Linked DNA regions of Homo sapiens. The gene in region 1 interacts genetically with each later gene. Each region holds a gene or a part of one and is shown in the gene's direction. Other genes may lie near its edges. The genes, in order: PRKCZ and NR5A1.

Region 1 (3,809 bases):
TGGAAGGCCCTGCCTGTCCTCTCCGCTGGCCCCTCAGTGTGGCCTGGGCCTGACGCTCTGTTCCCACCTGCAGAGAGCGTACTGCGGTCAGTGCAGCGAGAGGATATGGGGCCTCGCGAGGCAAGGCTACAGGTGCATCAACTGCAAACTGCTGGTCCATAAGCGCTGCCACGGCCTCGTCCCGCTGACCTGCAGGAAGCATATGGTGAGTGGCAGGGCTGGGGAGGCCCGGGGGGCACGGGCGGGGTCGGGGCGTGGCAGCCAGCCCATTGTCCAAGCAGACCTTGGTGACCCTGGGTTCTTCAAGAGGGGCCGTGGTGCCGTCCTAGCTCTGGGCTGCAGCGTGAGACTCAGGCGGCAGTCTTGGATAGGACCCATCTTCCTGAGCCCCCACAAGCCCCCGGCACACTCTGCTCATTGGGGCATGAGGCTCAGGCAGCAGGCTCAGGTAGGACGTGGTACGCTCTGCTCAGTGGGTCGGAGGTAAGGTTCATTCATACCCCAGTCTTGAACCAGCTCTTAAGGACTGTGGAGGTGAAAGCCAGGTCTGACCTAGTAGCATTGGGCACGCTGAGGCTCCGAACATCTGGAGCCTCTCCCTGGCATCCCCCCTGGGAAGCCATGCCCAGCCTGTGATGAGGGCGGCACCTTCCCTCCGCCATCCCCGAGTGCTTGGACTTGAAGCATCCAGGCCTTTGGGGGCCTTATTGACTTTTGCTTATTGAAGGCTGCCTCTGGCATTTCCGTGTGGCCCCCTGCATCCCACTGAACCACGGGGGTGAGGCCTGGACTGAACATTCAACTCCCTGGGCCCTGCTGCAGCGTGCAGTGGGTGTGTCTGGGGAGGGTGGCTTGTCTGCATCTTGCTGTGGCATGGGAGGAAAGGCGCCTGTGGCAGTGACGTGCCCTCTCCTCTGTTACGGGATAAAGACAGAGTCTGGATCAGGGTGTCACCCCAGGATCACCAGCCACAGGGATGGGGGACCACGCAGGCTGGTGCATGCGTTGGCACAGTCCTTCCAGAGGTCCTTCAGCTGCATCTGCCAAAAAGCCTGTAATGCCCTTTGACCTCATAGGTCCACTTTAGCGTAAGCAAATGAGACCGGCCCCAGAAATGTGGTCAGCTAGAGGCGGAGGGAGGCCAGAGCCTGCCACCCAGCTGACCACCAGTACTGGTGGCTCCATTATGACATATCTGCAGGCGGAACCCAGAGGCCCTTAGAATGGCCCCCTGATGCTTGGTTACTGACAGGATGCAGCTTTGGGACAGGGGAGATGACCAAGCATTGTGCAAAATATCCCGTTGTATAAAGCACTTGGTGGAAAGGTCATGGCCTGCAGTACCGAGTGGCCACCTCCGTCTGCAGAATCATAGGTAATGTTTATGTTCTTTATCTAATTCAGTAAAATAGCATAACAATTAGATTTTTATATACTATATTACAGTATACCCATTGTAATGTGTAAATATGTAAATCATAAATAGTCTTGAAGTGGCCAGGTGCAGAGGCTCACACCTGTAATCCCAACACTTTGGGAGGCCAAGGTGGGAAGATCACTTGAGGCCAGGAGTTCAAGACCAGCCTGAGCAATATGGTGAGACCCCATCTCTACAAAAAAAATACAAAAATTAGCCAGGCATGGTGGTGCGCACCTGTAGTGCCCGCTGCTCTGGAAGCTGAGGCGGGAGGATTGCTCGAGCTCAGGAGGTTGAAGCTGCAGTGAGCCGTGATCGCGCCACTGCTCTCCAGCCTGGATGATGACAGACTGTGACCCTGTCTGTAAAAAAAAGTTCTTAATTTTAAAAAGTCACAAAGTGTTTACAGAAGCTACATTGTAACACCTGCTCTAGCACTTGGTCATGCTGCCATCTCTGTGTCTCTCCGGCAGGATTCTGTCATGCCTTCCCAAGAGCCTCCAGTAGACGACAAGAACGAGGACGCCGACCTTCCTTCCGAGGAGACAGATGGAAGTAGGCGCTGCTTTCTTCCGGCCGGGTAGAGCCTGGGCATCACCTCACCCTGCTCACCTCTGCCTTCTAGCCACGAGTCCTTTCTCAGTCCCATCTGCTCTGCAGGGGTCATTGTCTTCAAGCCTGGCCACCCTTCCCTGGGGCTGGGGATGAGGCTCTCCAGGGCCTCCTCTCAATCCCCGGCAGAGATGAGCAGGGTGAGCTGGCCCTCCCTGGAGGCTGCTGGGCAGGGATGCCTCCGTGAAGTGCTGTTGTGGTTGCCCAGGGGTGCAGAGCCTCTTCCTCTAACCAGCTCCGGGAGTTCTCGAAGGCACTTAGTGCAGCAGCCACCATGGCCGGGCACCTCCCACAATCTGGCTGCTGCACAGAGCTGAGCCCTATCTGGGGAAAGCCTGGCGAGGTGGCTGCTGCACACACAGCGTGGCAGTGGCATGGTCCTTGGATTTTTGTGAGGTTTTGTTTGTTGTGGGGAAGGACTTGTTTTATTGCTAAGAAGCATTCAGAGAGAGATCTCAAACACCAGTTGGACTTACAGCCCAGGTTTGAGCCTCCACACCTGCACCTCTGCACGGGGGTGTGAGAGCCTCACTTTCACTTGATGCATGTGAGTTCTGTCTCATTGGGAGACCACAGAACATAAAGCACTTATGAGACCACAGAACATAAAGCACTTAGTTCACACAGTGCCTCACGCAAAAGAGATGCCTCACAAACAACTGCCTGCCCACCTGCTCCTCCACCCACCTATCCTCTATACAGATATTCATCCGTACATCATCCATTCACCCACCTAGCCAACCAACCAGCCCTCATCCAGCCAACCAGCCATCCTCCACCCGCCCATTCTCCATCCATCCACCACCTATCCATCTATCCACGATCCATCCATCTCGTCATCCAGCCAGCCAGCCAGCCATCCTCCACCCACCCATCCTCCAGCTATCTTCCATTCGTTCATCTGTTGTCCACTGACCTCTCCATCTATCCATGTATCTATTGTCCACTGACCTCTCCATCTATCCATCTATTGTCCACTGACCTCTCCGTCTATCCGTCTATTGTCCACTGACCTCTCCATCCAACCGTCTATTGTCCACTGACCTCTCCATCTATCCATCCATCTTTTGTCCACTGACGTCTCCATCTATCCATCTGTCTGTTGTCCACTGACCTCTCCACCCATCTATCTGTTGTCCACTGACCTCTCCATCTTTCCATCTGTTGTCCACTGACCTCTCCATCTATCCATCTATTGTCCACTGACCTCTCTATCTATCCATCTATTGTTCACTGACCTCTCCTTCCATCTATCTGTTGTCCACTGACCTCTCCATCTATCCATCTATCTTGTCCACTGACGTCTCCATCTATCCACACATCTGTTGTCCACTGACGTCTCCATCTGTTCATCTATCTGTTGTCCACTGACCTCTCCACCCATCTGTCTGTTGTCCACTGACCTCTCCATCTTTCCGTCTATTGTCCACTGACCTTTCCATCTATCCAGCTATTGTCCACTGACCTCTCCATCTATCCATCCATCTATTGTCCACTGACGTCTCCATCTGTCCATCTATCTGTTGTCCACTGACCTGTCCACCCATCTGTCTGTTGTCCACTGACCTCTCCATCTATCCATCCACTGTCCACTGACCTCTCCATCTATCCATCCATTGTCCACTGACCTCTCCATCTATCCATCCATCTATTGTCCACTGACGTCTCCATCTGTCCATCTATCTGTTGTCCACTGACCTGTCCACCCATCTGTCTGTAGTCCACTGACCTCTCCATCTTTCCGTCTGTTGTCCACTGACCTCTCCGTCTATCCATCTAT
Region 2 (3,809 bases), on another chromosome or scaffold:
GGGCCGACCGCAGCCGCCGTCGCGCCCCCTCTCGCGTCCCGGGCCCTGGCTCTTCGCGCTTCCCTCCTCCGGACTTCGCCTCTCCGCCCGAGGTCGCTCCCTCGCCTCGGGCTCGGCTTCCCGGAGCCCGCCGACCCCCGCCCGAGGTCTCCCCGCCCGACGTCCCGGTGGCAGCGGCGGCTCGGGCTGCGCCTCCCGTTGCCGTCGCTGCTGCGGCTTTGTCTCCCCCGGGGAGGGGGTCCCGGCGGCTCTGCGTTTTCGGGCTCTCGGTCCCGGCGCCGTCGTTTTCCGCCTCCTGCGGCCCGGGCCCCCGTCTGGGTCCGACCCTGCGGGGCCTCGCCTTGGCGCTTGGGCTCCTGCCCGGCAGGTTTCCGCGCGTCCCCTGTCCCCGACCCTCGGGCTGGGCGCTTCCGCCTCCAGGTTTTCTCTCCGTGTTTCTGTAGCTCCCCGGCCTCGTCTCTCCGGGGCTCCTCTCGTCTCGGCGTCTCTGTCTGTCGTCTATCGTTGTGTCTCTGGCTCTGCGTCAGTCTCTCTTGGGTTTTCTCTTCGGGCCTCCGCTGTCTCTCCGAGTCTCTGATCCAATCCCCCACCCCTCGTTTCTCTCTCTCTCTCTCTCTCTCGTCTCTCTCTCTCTCTCTCTCTCTCTCTGTCTCCCTGTCTCTCTCCATCCCTCCCTGTGTCTCGTCCCCGCCGGGTTCTCTCTAGCTGGGCGTCTCAGTGTCTGTGTCTCTGGCACTCTCGGACTGGCCTCGTGTCTGCGCCCGGTGGCGTCGGTCGTTGTCTCTCGCCAGAGTTTCTTCCCATCTCTGGCTCCCCCGGACTCTGTCTCTGCCTCCTTCGTCTCTGTCGGGTTCCCAGAACACCCGGGCCGGGCGCCCCAGCGCTCCTGGGTCCCCTGGCGTCTTCCCCGCGGCTGAGCCCATCTCTTTTTCTCAGAATCGGGGTTTTGTTCTCAGACAAACGAATCCCAATCGAAGCGCATCGAACCCGAGGGCCCCAGATCGGGCGCGACGGGGTCCGCGCGGGAGGAGCCCCCCGGACGGGGCGGGAGCGTGGGGCCTGGCAGGGGAAGGCCGGGCGCGGGGACTGCACCGGACCCACCCCGGGACGCTGCGCGGGGCGCTCGGTGGGTGCCGGCGGCAGCGCCTGGGCACAGAGAGGGGATTACGCGACGGGCCGGCGACAGCGGCTGGGGCGGCGGCCGCGGGGACCCCAGGCTGCCGGTCTCCGCCGGCCCTCCCTGACCCGCTGTCCCTCCGCAGGCGGACGCCGCGGGCATGGACTATTCGTACGACGAGGACCTGGACGAGCTGTGCCCCGTGTGCGGGGACAAGGTGTCCGGCTACCACTACGGACTGCTCACGTGTGAGAGCTGCAAGGTGAGCGGCGAGCGCGCGGCAGGGGTGCGGCAGACGGGCGCTGCGGGGCCTCGCTGACTCTCAGCTCCCGCAGGGCTTCTTCAAGCGCACGGTGCAGAACAACAAGCACTACACGTGCACCGAGAGCCAGAGCTGCAAGATCGACAAGACGCAGCGCAAGCGCTGTCCCTTCTGCCGCTTCCAGAAATGCCTGACGGTGGGGATGCGCCTGGAAGGTGCGCGCCGCGCGGGCCTCGACCCCTGACCCCCCACAGCCTGAGGGGGTAGGGGGTGGGGGTGGGAGAGGGGCTGAGGGGATAGTACCATTGGCCTTCGCGAAGGCCCCTCGTGCGACATTAGGGCCCAGTCGCTGCAAGAGAACCGGGCGCTGGCGCTGGGTGGGCCTCGGGCGGGGAAGGGACGCTGGCAAGGCCAGCCTGGGTTGGGCTGAGAAGTATCCAAAAGTGAACCCTATGGAGATGACTCTTTCCCCAGCCCCTGCCAGGGCCCCAGCACAGGGTCGGCAGAGCTCCTCCCTCTGTGAGGAGGTCCCCATGCCCCCAAAATACCCAACCCCAGCCAGCAGAGGCCAAGTCCCAGTGCCCGCACTGTCAGTCAGGCTGGGTGACATTGGGCAAAATCCTTAACCTCTCTAAACCGCAGATTTCCCATGTGAAACATGGGCTTGGCCGGATGGAGCGGCTCATGCCTGTAATTCCAGCATTTGGGAGGCTGAGGCAAGAGGATCACTTGAGCCCAGAAGTTTAAGACCAGCCTGGGCAACATGGAGAAACCTTGTATCTATAAAATATAAAAAAGTAGCTGGGCGTGGTGACATGTGCCTGTAGTCCTAGCTACTCAGGAGGCTGAGGTGGGGGGATCACTTGAGCCTGGAAAGTCGAGGCTGCAGTGAGCTATGATCACACCACTCCACTCCAGCCTGGGCGAGAGGGAAACCCTGTCTCAAAAAATAAGTACATAAAAATAAAAAAGAAAGAAAAGAAAAGGCAGAAAGAGAAAGAAAGAAAAGAAAAATGGGCTTAACGGCAGCGCCTTCCTCCAGTGAGTGAGTGTGGGGATCGGTGCAGGCAAGCTGAAGGTGCCTAGGCGTTCATTGCCGCAGGTTAGCTGTCAAGCCCATCACGCTTTCCATTAGGATCTGCCCACCACCACCGCCCAGCCCCCACACATTCAGCTGCCCATCTGCTTGTCTGTCCGTCCATCCAAAGGGCTCTCTGGTTTATTGGCTCAGCCAGTGAGATTCCTTCCCGTCATGTTCTTAGCCAGGCCCTGAGGGGGCCGGGCAGTGGGGGACAATTGAATTGCCCCCAAGAAACCCAGGCCCCTCTTTGCCTCCCTACCCTCAACCCCAGCTCTCAGCCCAGAGAGGAGGAGGTAAGTTTTGGCAGGAAAGATTTGAGCTTCTGGAGGTGGCCGGTCACTGGACTGTGTGCTGAACAGGCAGTGGTTGATTAAGGTCTTGGAACAGTGTAGAAAGCCCCAGGTGGCTCTGAGAGTGGTGGACCACATGCCCTGCCACCTGGAGAAAGGACTCCTGGATGGGAGAGGGGACATCCTGTCCTGTCCCCAGAGCCCATGCCCCTAGTGCCAGGTCCCAAGGGGCCAGATAGCTGGCTGTTGTGGGCAGTAGAAACTCCCGTGCAGCCTGCGAGCAGCACAGCGCTGCCCACCCCAGGGGGCAGGAAGATTGGCCAGGCAGCCCCCCAGCCATCATCCCTGCTGAGCACCACCACCCCCTCTCTCCTGCTCTTTCCCCTCGCCCAGATCCCAGGGTGGGGCCCTGTCTGAGCAGGGGCGGGGGGCACACTCCAGCTGCAGAGATGTACCTGTTGGGTCTGGCTGATGACACATTCCTCGCCAGGCGGAGGAGCTTCTAGTCGGCAAGAGAGGTCCCCTCCCCCAGCATAGAGCCTTGGCCAGCTCTAAACTTGGCTTCACATTCGCAGCCAGTGAAGGATACTTGAGTCATTTTGAAGCAGGAGCTCAACAGTCAGGCAGTCAGTCAACAAACAGCTGGACCCTGGGGCCAGCGGTGAACAAGGCTGACCAGGGTCCCCTTCCGGTCACCATCTCCCTGCCAGGCCTTATGCTAGACACCTGAGCCCAGAACTTAGCCCGCAGGAGCACATGGCATGATCCACTCAGCATGATAAGAGTGGGCAAGGACAGGGCACCTGGGGCAAGGACAGTAGAGCCCGTTTGCATGAATCCAGGAGTGCTTCCTGGAAGTAGTGACATTGAGGCTGGGTGTTCAGCAAGCACAAGAGAAAAAAAAAAGTTTGAGTCAGAAGGAAAATGAAAGGCAGGGTGGAGGAGGAAGGAGATGTGTCAAACAGAGGAGTGGAGGTGAGTTCGGTGGAGTGGAAGGAGAGGGGTCTTAGCAGGGATTGCCTGAAAAGCTGAGCAGGGCCTTGAATGCCAGGCAAAGGA

What was found.
Region 2: changes in PRKCZ (region 1) and NR5A1 together harm fitness more than expected from each alone (negative genetic interaction), as found in Homo sapiens cells (one large-scale study listed by BioGRID).

What each region holds. Positions count from the first base shown.
Region 1 is NC_000001.11:2,144,137-2,147,945, forward strand, and holds part of PRKCZ (protein kinase C zeta type), read left to right. Parts: intron 1-73; coding exon 74-205; intron 206-1,250; exon of another isoform or gene 1,251-1,375; intron 1,376-1,890; coding exon 1,891-1,972; exon of another isoform or gene 1,973-2,169; intron 2,170-3,809. UniProt on the Homo sapiens protein: Calcium- and diacylglycerol-independent serine/threonine-protein kinase that functions in phosphatidylinositol 3-kinase (PI3K) pathway and mitogen-activated protein (MAP) kinase cascade, and is involved in NF-kappa-B activation, mitogenic signaling, cell proliferation, cell polarity, inflammatory response and maintenance of long-term potentiation (LTP).
Region 2 is NC_000009.12:124,500,864-124,504,672, reverse strand, and holds part of NR5A1 (steroidogenic factor 1), read left to right. Parts: intron 1-1,262; 5' UTR 1,263-1,277; coding exon 1,278-1,379; intron 1,380-1,452; coding exon 1,453-1,594; intron 1,595-3,809. UniProt on the Homo sapiens protein: Transcriptional activator. Essential for sexual differentiation and formation of the primary steroidogenic tissues. Binds to the Ad4 site found in the promoter region of steroidogenic P450 genes such as CYP11A, CYP11B and CYP21B.